2 linked regions of the Homo sapiens genome follow. Changing the gene in region 2 together with the main gene of any one other region gives a genetic interaction. Each region holds a gene or a part of one and is shown on either strand. Other genes may lie near its edges. The genes, in order: NF1 and ECHDC2.

Region 1 (3,817 bases), on a different chromosome or scaffold from region 2:
TGAGGTACCCCTGCTTTCCAGGCCTGCCCATAAACAGACAAGTACTTGCCTCAGACCTGCAGGTATCTATCACCTGGTCTTTTTTAGTCCTTTGTTCAATATCAGACACTGTTACCCTTCTGAGGATAGCTCTGTCCTGTCCACTGGGTCTGGGCTGTGTTCTTTCTCCACTGATTGGGGGAGGCAACCCACATAATCAAGTAAGTAAAATAGTAACACGGGGCAGCTGAGCCAGGGGAGGTGGTTTACATTGTATACACGTGTAGTGTCACAGAAGATTCTATAGCGGGAAAGCTGAAAAGTTGGAGAGAACTGCCCTCTGACTGGTCAATCTTGGGATGCCCTGACATTTCTGACTGGCTTCATTTTAAGAGAAGCCAGCTTATCCCAGAGAACAGACTCACCTGAGTTTGGCAGGCCCTAAAAAAGCATTTCACAAAAATATTTCACTTTTAGTGTGGAGAAGTTCTGGAAATGGAAAGATCTTTCTCACGGGGAGTAGGAGAGCCAAAAACATCCTTAAGGAAAATGGCCTTAATGTTTCAAAAGATTGGGAGGACTCGGGGGGAAGAAAACAGAGCTCGATACATCTGAAGAAATTAAATAACTCCTCATATCTTAGAGCAGATTGAATTTACATTTTACTTAAAAAAAGGGGGGTGGGGGAAGTACATACACAAGGAGGAAAATGGGGTGAGGAACAATAAAGATCTGAAATGGATTTCTATGATTTTCCCCTACAATGATCGATTTTGTCTGTTGGGCAGTATTTTTCCTGCTGGCGTACAACTGTTTACAGTATTAACAAGGTTGTAGACAAAGGAACTGCCAAAGTTTAGGCCCGGATGGAAAGGACAGTAAGTTATCATATACAATTTAAGTTTACAATACACAGCATTTTCTTTAAATGATGTAACGCAGTCGCAAAAAGAAGTTAACAATACTAACACGAGAATAATCAAATTTTTGTTGTTATCCATGTGCAGCAACTAACTGCTTTACAAAAAAGCAAAATAATACAATATATCATCACATATATTTACAGTATAGTAAATATACTTTTTTTGTCAAATTTTACACAAACTATTTACAGGTGAATATACTGCATTAAAAAAAATTGTGTGGCTGACACTAAGAATGAATTTTTGCCTAAATCCATTGCATAACATTGAGTAAGACATGCCTCATTATGCCTGGGAGTCGGGGAAGGATGTAGAAACAAAAACAAAAAACAAAAAACCCAAACAAAACTGAAAACCCCTAAAACCTACAAACCTGGGAGGGTTGCTGGCTGGCACTCTGTCTCCCCAACTAGGACACAGGATAGAAGCTGACTGTTTAGGATGTGTCCTGGGCACCTGGCTCAGTCATGAACAGGTGTTGAGTGAATGGAAGACAGAGCTGTAGCCACTTTGCCCCAAATCTACTGAACTGCATCTCCATCTGGGCAACTAAGGGCATGCCCCTCGGATGGGAGTACTGGCATAACAGGTAGATTATCCAGGACAAAAACATGACTGAGTTCCTGGTTTCCTCTTTAACAAGTCAGGGGAAACATCTACAAACCGAAACGAATTACTTATAATATTTTTAACAGAACTTATGTCAATTACGCAGAAATGGGCAACTTGGTCTAAACTTCAGAATTTCTTTTATAGATTACAAGTATGAAGACTAAAAAAGTGTTGCATTTCTCAAGGGACACATAGTGGTGAGAGGTTTATCTCATGTACATTTTAGTTACTTGGAAAGCTAGATTTTCCTCAAAAGTCAGAAGTTCTTTAAACAAGGTAAATTTTAAACCTTAGTTAAGTTTTCAAACTCCTAGGATGTACTTACTAGTCAAAGGTATTTTTGCATTTCAAAGGCGGCTGAATTTTGATTTGTGCCAATGCTGATCATTTCAGGCGGTATGAAATACTACACCCTTGGTAAACCCGTTTATGGAAATATCAGTATTTTTAACAGTAAACCTCTGGAAGTTTCTTTATTTTGATGGGAAGAGCAAAATAGCATAACACCCACTATCATATGCACCAAACCAACAAACAAAAACAAGAAAAACATCGAACTAAAGTTATCAAAGGCTTACACTGCCTGCTATTCCAGGGCCTAGAAACTGTGAAACTTACCCCAGAAACACTGGGTTGTGGGAGAGCCAAGACCATGGTGGCAGCTTGGCATCCTTGGCACTGGGTTACTGATCTATTTCTAAACACAGTTCTAATTTCAGCTTTTTTATATAGTCATAGTTGCTCTGTCATTATAAACATTTTCTTCTAATGCAGCCTCTACAATAGTTTAAAAACAAAAGTTTAGTAAATTGCACCTGTCTTCAGTATTTCCAACAATTCTATGGTAAACTCATTAATAATACTAAGGTTTTCTTTCCTCTTATTTTGGCAAATAATTCTTACTTTTCCCAGGACTGTAAACAAATTTAAAAAATTAAATTCTTGTTATTTCTGAGTATCAAAACCAATTTTATTTACATTAACATATTACATTGTTACTGTGTGGATAAATGTGAAATATATTATTAAAATCAGAACACTTAAATGTACCATTATTTATTGAATTAGCTGTGGAATTTAATTTACTGAAATCCTCTAATGAAACAGCACTACAGGAAACTCCCCTCTCCCCTAGGTTTATTTTTTCCCCCCTCAAAGCCATTATATCTTAACATATAAAGGGAACCTGGGAGTAGAGGGATTAATATCTTTTTGTAATAAATATGGTTTAGTTCTAAATTGGAACATCCAGATACCAATATGCTCACTGAAGTCAAATTATTTTGTAAACTGCAGGTACCACAAAGAAATTGGATCTGCATTACTATGAAAATTCCAATGCCATGATAATCCATACCACCAGTATAGCAGCAATTCTAACAGCCCCCCTACTGTCATACTAATGCAGGCTGACCAGTCTTTTCACAGTGATTAAATGCAATTCTAGCATATATAACCTACATGTTTTCTTAAAGAGGTTTCTGATTTTTTTGGAGAGGAGGAGGAAGATTAAAAGACATTCAAAATACATCTTATCAAAGAAATTTATAATATACACCATACTCTATTCTTGGAAATTATTTAACAAAATAAAAATATCAGCTACCCTAAATGTCACGTACCATTCCATTTTGCTATGGAGCTAATGCAAACATCTATGAAAATTACCTTCTGGGAACAATTTTCAACACTTTGTTCACTGATTACCCTGCTCAGAATTAGTTAGGAAAGAAGAGGGGGAGGGGAAAAAATATATATATATATATAATTACTATACTTAGTATAGTTTTGGTTTACAAAAAACAAAACACAAAAAAACCACCTTTAGCAAAATTAAAAATTAAAAGATAATCAACTGGAGAAAAAAATAAACTAGTTTGGATGACTGAGTTTGGATAAGGACTTAGAAGCCATAGTTTTAATTCAGTAATGTTAAGATATATGTGGTCGCACTTATTTTCCTGTAATTATTGCTAATACTCAAGTGTTAGTATTTCTTAAGAATCCACTATAAAATATGAAATTTCCCTGCCCTCCCCCCCAAGTACCTTGTCTGTGGCTTTATGGTGTCAAGTCACTGAGGCTTGACCTCTATGGTTCTTTCAGTTTTGTACGGTTAAAAAAAAAGTCCACAGCTAAAAGATTAAACATACTGGGGTTATAATACTATTTCTCTCATAAACTTGTATCTTGAAAAATGTATAAATAGGACTAACACTTTACTCTGTAGGATGAAGAAGGGAAAACCACAGAAGGCAGAGCTCTGTGCAAATGGCTTTCATCACTGGCCAGTAGTAGCAGTA
Region 2 (4,364 bases):
ACAACAGGAGATGAGCAGCTTCATCTGTATTTACAGCAGCTCCCCATGGCTTGAATTACCACCTGAGTTCCACCTCCTATCAGATCAGTGGTGGCATTAGAATCTCATAGGAGTGCGAACCCTATTGTGAACTGTGCATGTGAGGAATCTAGGTTGTTGCGAGCTCCTTATGAGAATCTAATGCCTGATGATCTGAGGTGGAACAGTTTCATCCCCAAACCATCTGTCCGCCCGCAAGTCCATGGAAAAACTGTCTTTCATGAAAATAGTCCCTGGTGCCAAACCAGTCCCTGCTGTCCTAGGCCTTCACATTCACTCACCATTCACTCGCTGACTCACCCAGTGCAGCTTCCAGTCCTGCAAGCTCCATTTATGGTAACTGCCCAGTACAGGTGTACTATTTAAAAAATCTTTTAGACTGTATTTTTACTGTGCCTTTTCTATGTTCAGATACACATTTACCATTGTGTTACAGTTGCCTACAGTATTCAGCCCGGTACCATGCTGTCCAGGTTTGTATTCTAGGAGCAACAGGCTATACACCATGTAGCCTTGGTGTGCAGTAGGCTACCCCATCTAGGACTGTGTAGGTGCACTCTGTGATGCTCCCACAATGACCACAATCACCTAATGATGCATTTCTCAGAATGTAGCCCCGTTGTTAAGCAACACATGACTCTATGAGAAATAAAGCCGCTAAGAACAGTGAAGAATGGTTTACCACCCAACCTCAAGCTCAAAGGCAGCAGGTAAAATGTAACAGTGCTCTTGTGCCATCAGCCCCAGTGGAAGGCAGAACCTGCAGCTTCTAATATGAACATCAAATGACCCCAACTCATTCCCTGTGAGGGCTCCGTGTGTGATCTCATCCCCATGCCTCCTCTGCACTGTCATCTTGGTTTCTGTCTCTCCTTCTCTCACTGCCTTTTCCTGCCCTTTGAGCCCTCTGGCAGGGGCAGAGGCTTAATCTGCTGATCCTTGTCATTCTTTTTTGGATAAAATGATTCCCGATATTTGCAAGTGAGCCTAAAGGTCTTTAACCCATGATAATTTTGTGTTTACACATGTACAAGTCTGTATTTTGAGTCACTGAATTACTAGAAGAGCCAGTGATTACCTAATGGTTGAGAACACAGGCTTTGAAATCAGACCTGGTTCAAATAACTTAACCTTCTGTGCCTCAGTTTTTTAATCTGTAAAGTGGGGAGAATAATCTTGACTGTCTTAAGAGCTGTTGCCAGTTGGGTAGTGAACTAAGCATGAGATTGGGGGTATAAGGTTCAGCAATATTAACTGTTCAAGGAAATTCTCACCAAGTGGTGCAGTGGGACTCTAGGTGGCCTGTCCGTGTCCACTGAAGGTGGTAGATGCACACTTGGGAACAGTGGGCAACAGCAGGGAGCAAGGAACTGGATTTTATGGCAAAGCCCCGCTTCAAACTTGTTGTCAAGCCGGTAAAAAGGAAGCAATACTGCTGGGGAAGGGGCGGCAGGCGCCATGTCCGGCCACGAAGGTGGCAAGAAGCCACTGAAACAGCCCAAGAATGCAGGCCAAGGAGATGGACGAGGAAGATAAGGCTTTCAAGCAGAAACAAAAAGAGGAGCAGAAGAAACTCGAGGAGCTAAAATGGAAGGCCACGGGGAAGGGGCCCTTGGCCACAAGTGGAATTAAGAAATCTGGCAAAAAGTAAGCTGTTCCCTGTGCCTAAGGAGATGGTGACCCTTTATTTCATCAGTATTTAAACCTCTCTATTCCCTGCCATAACATCTTTTGCCACCTATGGCTGGAATTAAGTGTTGTCTTGGAGCTGTTGTACATTTAAGAATAAACTTTTGTTAAAAAAAAAAAAGAAGCAATACAACGAAATGTACAGTACAATGCCATCTGTGTATCAAATGCAGGAGACAGGGGATGAGATGCGGGGAGGAGACCCAAGGCAGGAGAAGCGCCTAGCCCTGATGGTTACCAGCAGAGGACTGAGGAGCGTTATCAGCACCACTGAATGCTCCAGAAGTTCAAACAACAACAACAACAAAAACGCAACACGCGATCAGAGGCGTTTTCTGCCAGTGACCCGCGAACTTTGCCCCCCACCCCTCGTCCCCGCTCCATACTATCCTTGATCTTGGCCAAAAGGCGGAGAAACAGCGAACTTTTCCCTGGAGCCAGAAGGACGCAAAGGTTCGCTAGCGGCCCAGGGCGGGCGCGCGGCTGGAGAGGCACCCTCCTCACTCTGCCCGCTGCCGCACTGGGCACTGGGACTGGCTCCGCTGCCTCCGCCCCCGAACCGGGCCAGGACCCTTGGCGGGGGAGGGGAACGCGCACTTAAACGCTCCTGGCCTGGGGGCCGCGGGGCCCAGTCCTACCCGTGCGGACCCCGCTCCCCCTTCCACACAGTCGGAAGACCCCAAAGGGCCTTTGAAGAGACCGAGGTTGCCAGAGGCCCCCCGCCCCCAGCTAGAGTCTGGAGCCACTAAGGCGGCCGCCCACCTCTCAGGCCTGGAGCGGTTTGGGGCGCCTAGAACTGGGAGGGAGGGACTGGGGATCGAATCCTTCAACGCACTGAGCGGCCCACCTGCCGGTCCCCCGCTGCCTCCGGCCTAGTCCCAGTCGCGTCATGCGCCGCCCCGGAACTGCACATTTACCTTGGTCCGGACCCGCCAGGGCGCGCACTTGGATCTCTGAGCCCCCGGCCGCCCCGTCGGAAGCGCAGCCGCGGGCCCGAAGGGGCCTCCAGGGGCGCAGGAGGCACAGAACGCGCAGCATCGGGGCGCAGGCTGGGAGTGAAGGTGCTTCTCCGGCCCTGCACCGTCTCGGCTCCCGCTGAGAGCTCGCAGTTCCGGCGTCGGGCGAAGCCTTCGCCAATTGCTCCACCTATGGGCCAAGCGTCTGTTGCCTCCTTCCGCACCTCCCGGGGACAGGGAGACTTGAGCGGAGGAGGTCGGGGGAAGCCCAGCTCCTCTGTGTGATTTGGTGTAACTCTGTCAACCTCCCAGCGTCAGTGTTTTAATCCTGTAAAATGGGGATAATAGTGACTACCCCGTGGTGGTGTGAAGATTAAATGGGGTGTGTGAACCTTGCTTGCACATATGCTCAATTTCATTTTTTAAATGAAATGACATTTAATGAGTCCCTTGAGCGTGTCTACACTTGCGAACCTCACTGCTTCACCTCCCATTTGCGCCTCACTTTTTTTTTTTTTTTTTTTTTTTGAGACGGAGTCTCGCTGTGTCGCCCAGGTTGGAGTGCTGTGCCTTGATCTTGGCTCACTGTAACCTCCGCCTCCGGGTTCAAGCGATTCTCCTGCCTCAACCTCCCAAGTAGCTGGGATTACAGGGACGCGCCACCACGCCCAACTAATTTTTTTTGTATTTTTAGTAGAGGCAGGGTTTCACCATGACGAAACCCTGTCTCTGTTAAACATTCAAAAAAATTAGCTGGGCGTGGTGGCGGGCGCCTGTAATCCCAGCTACTTGGGAGGCTGAGGCAGGAGAATCACTTGAACTCGGAAGGCACAGGTTCAGTGAGCTGAGATCGCGCCACTGCACTCCAGGCTGGGCAATGAGCGAAACTGCGTCCCAAAAAAAAAAATTATTCTCTTAAACACAGTATATACAAAGCACTCTCACATTGCTGATGTGAATGTCTTTAAATGAAAAGCAACTGGTAATTTATATCAAAATTATAAATGCACAAGCTCATTGCCCCAGAAATTCCAATTTTAGAAATTTAACCTACAGATAAATCCACACAGCTGTGAAATGACACGTGTTCATGGCTGTACATTGCAGCATTGTTTATAATAGCAAAAGACTGGAAGCACATGGTGCTGTCATGTGCTTCTGGTGAGGCCTCAGGAAGCTTACAATCATGGCTGAAGGTGACAGGGATCCAGCATGTCACATGGCGAGAATAGGAACAAGAAAATTAGGTGGGGAGGTCCCAGTTTATCGCCAAGGGGATGGTGCTAAACCATTCACAAGGGATCTGTCCCCATGATCCAGTCACCTCCCAACAGGGCCCACCTCCAACATTGGGAATCATATTTCAACGTGAGATTTGGAGGGATCCAACACCCAAACTATATCACAGTCTCAATATCCATCAATAGAGGGTTGGTTAAATAAATTATGGGGCTGTGTGTGGTGGCTCACCCTATTATTCCAACACTTTGGAAGGCCAAGGCAGGTAGGTCCCTGGAAGCCAGGAGTTTGAAACCAGCCTGGGAAATATAGCAAGCCCCTATCTCTACTTAAAAAAAAAAAAAAGGTACATCAATAATCTGAATACTATGCAGCTATAACAAAACACAGGAAACTGTTTATGCATTGATATGAAACAATCTTCAAAATCTATTGGTATAT

What was found.
Region 1: changes in ECHDC2 (region 2) and NF1 together harm fitness more than expected from each alone (negative genetic interaction), as found in Homo sapiens cells (one large-scale study listed by BioGRID).

The regions. Positions count from the first base shown.
Region 1 is NC_000017.11:31,374,477-31,378,293, reverse strand, and holds the end of NF1 (neurofibromin), read right to left. Parts: 3' UTR 619-3,817; downstream 1-618. UniProt on the Homo sapiens protein: Stimulates the GTPase activity of Ras. NF1 shows greater affinity for Ras GAP, but lower specific activity. May be a regulator of Ras activity.
Region 2 is NC_000001.11:52,918,908-52,923,271, forward strand, and holds the start of ECHDC2 (enoyl-CoA hydratase domain-containing protein 2, mitochondrial), read right to left. Parts: upstream 2,834-4,364; 5' UTR 2,767-2,833; coding exon 2,646-2,766; exon of another isoform or gene 1-2,645.